Linked DNA regions of Homo sapiens: region 1 is linked to region 2. Evidence: fine-mapped expression QTL. A gene starts in region 2. The other region holds a variant in brackets. All regions are shown on one strand. Distances are between the middles of the regions. Region 1 overlaps PLXNB2 (plexin B2). Region 2 holds the start of SBF1 (SET binding factor 1).

Evidence for each region. PIP is the estimated chance that this variant, and not a neighbour inherited with it, causes the effect. A credible set is the group of variants that fine-mapping cannot tell apart.
Region 1: its variant is the best candidate, but not a certain one, in a credible set for the expression of SBF1 in whole blood (TOPMed, PIP 0.77).

What each region holds. Positions count from the first base shown.
Region 1 is chr22:50,300,310-50,303,200 of GRCh38, reverse strand. All of the region lies in intron 1 of PLXNB2 (plexin B2), which reads left to right. Among named protein-coding and RNA genes, the nearest start is that of PLXNB2, 5.9 kb to the left of the region's middle. RefSeq lists a silencer at 1,461-1,510 and enhancers at 1,648-2,204, 2,205-2,761. The variant C/T (reference allele first, on the strand shown) is at 1,067.
Region 2 is chr22:50,474,005-50,476,895 of GRCh38, reverse strand. SBF1 (SET binding factor 1) reads left to right here and starts at 1,861. Exons shown (of 41, transcript NM_002972.4): 1 at 1,861-2,110. The coding sequence starts at 2,056. RefSeq lists enhancers at 699-1,608, 2,519-2,891 and silencers at 1,705-1,909, 1,490-1,949, 2,370-2,499.

The sequences.
Region 1 (2,891 bases), 170 kb after region 2:
CCTCAGCTGGGGTCTGGCTTTGAACCTAGGTGAGTTCTGGGGCTCTGAGGACAGGCCAGAAGCAGGAGTGTGGGGGGGTCTCTCCTGGGGGAAGCAAGGGAGGCCTGGGCCTGTGTGACTCAGACGTGGTAGGGTGGCATGGGAGCCACAGCTTGGGGGGATGGCGGGGGGCTTGAGGGTAATCCAAGTATTTCAGGGACCCAGCCATGGAGAGTGGGGTTTGAGGACCAGCAGGAGGTGAGGACTCTGTGGATCCCAGCCCTGTCAGGTGTGTTTTCAGAGCTGGGGCCTGCTTTGGAGGAGATGGAGGGCACAGAACACTGCTGAGCCCAGGCCCTGTGCCCAGCCTTGCTCCAGCCTTACCGGCTTGACACCAGGGCCTCCCTCCCACCAGCGAGGGGGAGAAGCTATTTTAAGTGGAGCCAGCAGTTGACAGGGGCAAGGGGCAGGTGGTGGGAGGGAGGTGCTCCAGCATGGCCCCCCCCACTCCCTCTCAGCCTCAGAGATTGGCCAGGGGAGCTGAGGGGCTTGGCCTCCCCACTCCTATGTTGGCACCGAGCCTGATCTGGTGACCACCCTGAGGGACTTCAGGAGAAAAGGATGTTAGGGAGGAGGGCGTGAAGGTGGGGCGCCCCAGGCAGGCCGCCCAGGCCCAGCAAAGCTCGCTGGAGGGTCCCCCAGTTCCACATCTAGACCTGGGGCCCAGTGGCTCTCGACCAGGCCCTGTGGGGTTTGAAGTCCTCAGCTCCACCATGAGCAGAGCAAGCCTCCGCGTGGAGCAAGGGGCTGGACCTGGCCTCCAGGGGCACCCACCTCCCCACACAGCTCCAGCCACGGGCATCACCTCCCACTCACTGTCCTGCCCCCACTCTGAGATGGGCATTTCCTCACTGGGAAATCCCTGTCCCTCTGGCCTCCCAAAGCCCTGAGTGTTTGCCCCTGTGGGGCCCAGCCCACACCCTGGGCTGCCTCACCCTTGGCCTGGACCCAGGTCCTGCCCAACACCCTGTGCCTCACCAGCCCCCAGCTCATCCTGGGCAGACGCAGCCCCTCTCCCCTGCTGAGA[C/T]GGCCCTGCCCCCACCCCACTTCCCCATGCCACACATGGCCCCTCCCTCGGGGCTCCAGGCAGCGCTGGGTTCTGAGAGCCCCACTGCCCCTCTTAGCCCAAGTGCCCCGGCCTGAGGCTTCTCTCCCAGGCTCTTTGTACTGGGGACGAGTTCTGGGTGTTGGGGTGAGACCCTGTTGGCAGGGCTTTTCCGGCAGCACCCAGCCATGTGTGTCTGCACATGTGTGGTCATGTGTGCAAGTGGTGTCTGGCACACAGGCTTGGCGCGGTGCCCCAAGCTAATTGTGGGGTTCAGCGGTGATGGGCGAGGCGGGGCTGGGGTGACCGCTGAGGCGCTGACAGGCTGACGGGGAGATTACAGGCCTTGCTTACTGCTCACTGGCTGGGGCCTCACCCGTCCACCCCCCAACGCCCACCCCGGGGGTGAGAAGGGGGCTGTGGGCGGGGGCTGGTCTTGAGCCAGCTGCATCCAGGCAGGACCTGGTCTCTGAGCAGCCGGCTGCTGCGGGGTTGAGCTGGAAAGGGGGAGATGCGTGGGGGCCACTCAGAGGAGAGCCTGCAGGTGGGGCTGGGCACCGGCGGGCCGGGAGGCCTCCTTTCAGGAGAGACTCCAAGTGACTGAGCCCCAGAATCCCACGAGAGTCCCTCCGTGGCCGCCTGCTGTCTGACCGCATGTCCTGTCCTGATGAGTTGGTGGTTCCTGCTGTAGCCATCGGCCTCGTGTGCCCCGAGCGCCTGGCGGTGCCCACCCCTCCCACAGGAGGTCCTCAGGAAGCACGGAGACATCGGTAGGTTCATTGCGCTGCCCAGCTTTCTGACCCGAAGGACCACGGTGTAGCAAGAGGGGGCTGCAGCTGTGCCCAGGTTGGACAGGATGGGGTCTGGGACCCCGAAAGGGGTGGTTGAGGAGAGAGGTGGTTCTGCAGGCCTGGTGCGTGTGGGGACAGGGCGCCGTAGCCAACTGGATCCCACCTTCTGTCTGAGGGCTGGGGAGGACCATCCTCCAGATGCGCCAGTGGGCCGTGGCCAGAGAGGAGGCTGAGGAGGGCCTCACAACTGTGTGTAGGATGGGAGGGCAGCCTGGGGCCCCAGTCTAGGGACGCACCATATACAGGGGCTGCACTTGGTGCAGAGGCGGAGAGGGGGCTGGGGCAGGCCCCTTGGGCATGGCCAGGTGAGCTCAGGGGGTGCCTGAGGGCCAGGGCTAGATACAGAGGCCCTGGGTACCAGGTGGCCTGGGTGTGTCAGGAGGTGTGGACCAGTGGGGGCTGTGACTAACTCGGCTGGAGCAAGTGACAGGAGGAGCTGGGGCTTCATGGGGCACCCCCAGGATCCTGGGCTGGTGACCCCATCACTGCCACCAGCCAGGGTGACTTTTCCTGCTGGGACCCAGAGCCCAGACTGCAGGGGAGGCTGGCCCTAAGTAGGAACCCCACCCTGAAACCAGGCTGGCGGGGAAGGGGTGCGACGGCCTCCACCTGGGAGGGGTCCTCAGCCGAGAGTCCAGCGGGGACCGCTGTAGACGCTGAAGCGAGGCTCAGGCCTCCACATCAGTCTGTCCCTGGAGCCCCGCCCCGCCCCGCCCCGCCCCAGCTCCTAGGTCGGGTTGTGCCGGGAGCGTTCGGCCTTTGCCTCGGGTGAGTCTGGCCTTGACCCTGGGTCCGGAGTCCTGCGGGAGGCTGCTCCGGGCAGGGTCGTGCATGATTGGCAGCTGGGCCGGGAGGGGCCGAGCCCTGAGACCGACCGGGGGCACGGGCGGAGCCACCATCGGCGGGGCGGAGCTGCTCCCCGCGCCCCTTCCACGGCTCGGAGGACTTAGGTAATG
Region 2 (2,891 bases):
TTTGGGTACAAGTGACAGAAACCAACTTGAGCCAGCTGGGGCAAAAAGGAGGATTTCTGGCAGGGCACAGTTTCTCACACCTGTAATCCCAACACTTTTTGAGGCAGATGCAGGAGGATCATTTGAGGACAGGAGTTCAAGACAAGCCTAGGTAACTTATCAAGACCCTGTCTCTACAAAAAAATTAAATTTTAAAAAGATGATTTCTCAACCTGTGAAAACCAACAGTGGGAGAGGAGAGGCGTAGCGTGGCCTGTGCCTGAGGGCAGGGAGGGGACCCTGGTGGGGCCTCTCAGTTTGATTCCATTCATTCTCTTGGGCTGGCTCCTGCCCATGGATGGAGACTGGATGCCAGTCATTTGGCCAGTTCTTGCAGCAGCCAAACTCATTTAAAAACAGACCTTCAGGGCCAGGCGCGGTGGCTCACACCTGTAATGCCAGCACTTTGGGAGGCCGAGATGGGCGGATCACGAGGTCAGGAGATCGAGACCATCCTGGCTAACACAGTGAAACCCTGTCGCTACTAAAAATACAAAAAATTAGCTGGGCGTGGTGGCAGGTGCTTGTAGTCCCAGCTACTCGGGAGGCTGAGGCAGGAGAATGATGTGAACCTGGGAGGCGGAGTTTGCAGTGAGCCAAGATCACGCCACTGTACTCCAGCCTGGGCGACAGAGCGAGACTCTGTCTCAAAACAAACAAACAAAAACAAACAAAAAACAAAAAACAGACCTTCGGGCTGGGGGCGGTGGCTCATGCCTGTAATCCCAGCACTTTGGGACGCCATGGTGGGTGGATGGCCTGAGGTCAGGAGTTCAAGACCAGCCTGGCCAACATGGTGAAACCCCCTCTCTACTAAAATACAAAAATTAGCCGGGCATGGTGGTGCACACCTGTAATCCCAGCTACGCGGGAAGCTGAGGCGGGAGAATTGCTTGAACCCAGGAGACGGACGTTCCAGTGAGCCAAGATGGTGTCACTGCACTTCAGCCTGGGTGACGGATTGAGACTCTGCCTCAAAAACAAAACAAAACATAACAAAAAACAGACCTTGGCCTGCTGTGCTCAGAGGGGTTTCCCTGCTGCACCAGGCTGGCTCCTGCACCTTCTCTCCCAGCATGTTCTGCTCTGGGCTCATGCTCATCCCTGAGCCACTTCAGGGGTGGCCCTGGCCAGCCCTGCCCTTGAGAGGGGTGGGCACTGTCAGGGATCCTGGGGGATGCAGCTTTCCCAGAGCCCCCTGCTCCGTGGCCTCATGTGCCTCACACGCTTAGAACATTTGCTCTTTACAGGGGGACATGAGCGTGCCGTTTTTAAGCTGTGTTAAATGTCTCACTTGGCCTAGATGGGGGCTCTTCAGCCTGGGACCCCAAGGGCAGGGCCTGAATTCTCTCTCTGTTCCCCATCGCCAGGCTGGCAGCCCCTGAGGTGATGGCCCTGCGCCTCCTCTGACTTCTAGTTTGGGGGGCCCGGTAGGCAGCGCCTAGGCTTCTCCCGCCTTTCTCCCGCTGGACAGAGAGGGGCGGGGGACGAGGAGTCTGGGGACCCGATCCCCAGATTGGGACGGCCCAGGGGTGGGGTTCGGGCTCCTGTGCGGGGAGTCCCAACGGCGAGGGCAGCTGTGGTCCTGGCCCATGCCTCCCGCCGACACCACAGCCGACCCGGGTCAGGGCGTCAGACCCGCCGGAGCCGTAGTCCAGGTGCCCGGCCCGAGGGGCGGTGCTCGGGCCCCAGAGTGGTCAGCGATGGGCGGGGCGCTGCTCTCGGGAGCCGCCCTCCCACCCTCTGGACCAATGGAGATGCGCGGTTGCAGGCCCCGCCCGCTCAGGGCTTGACGACAGCGCGCAGGCGCACGGCGCGCCCGGGCGGGCCGGCTGGCTGGGAAGATGGCGGCGGGAACCTGGGCCGCCGCCGCCGCCGCCGCCGCCGCCGCGGAGCGAACCAGGGGTGTCCGGGGTGCGCGGTCCAGGGCCGGGGCCGGGCCATGAGCGCGCCGTCCTCGAGTCCCCGAGCCGCGGAGCCCGCCCGCGCCCCTCGGGCCGCCCCGCGTCCCTCGCCATGGCGCGGCTCGCGGACTACTTCGTGCTGGTGGCGTTCGGGCCGCACCCGCGCGGTGAGTGCCGAGGCCAAGCGCTGAGGGCCGGGGGCCGAGGGTCGAGTGCTGAGGGCCAGGGGCTGGGTCTGAGGGTCGAGGGCCGGGGGCTGGGGGCCGAGGGCTGGGGGCTGGGTCGGGAGGCCGAGGACTGAGGGCCGGGCGCTGAGGGCCGAGGACCGGGGGCTGGGCGCTGAGGGCCGGGGTCGGGGGAGCCGAGGACTGAGGGCCGGGGCCGGGGGCCGGGCGGGGACTGAAGGCCAGGGCCGACCGGACAGCCCGTGGGGAGAATGGGCGTCCGCTGGGGGCGGCGTGGCCGCGCGGGCCTGGTGGCGGCAGGGAGAGAAGGCTGGGCCCGGCCTGCCCGGCCTCCTTGGGGTGGGACGGGCTCTCTCCTTGGCCAGCTGCGGGCGGCTGTGGCTCTAGTGGCTCCAGGGGCGCGGACCCGCGGCTCGCCAGCCCGCCTCTGACCTTGGTGCTCCGTCTGAAGCCCCCGGCGGTCTTGGCGGGGTGCAAAGAGGGGGTGGAGTTCGGGTTTGGTGCATGGAGAAGCGGTGTTTGATTTGAAACTGGGAGGATTTGAGGAGGAAGCGTCGAGAGTAGAGAGAAGAGCATTCCTGGCGACTCGCCTGACGGTCCAGGCCCTGCACGCCAAGCCCTGGGTGGGGTATCAGCGTGGCGGTCGGTGCCCATGCCCAGGAGGTCTGTGTGTGGGGTCAGCGCCCGTGTCTGAGAGCTCTTCAGCCCAGGAGGTAGGAGAAAACGGAGCCTGACGATGACATCAGCAACAGCCTGGAGACAG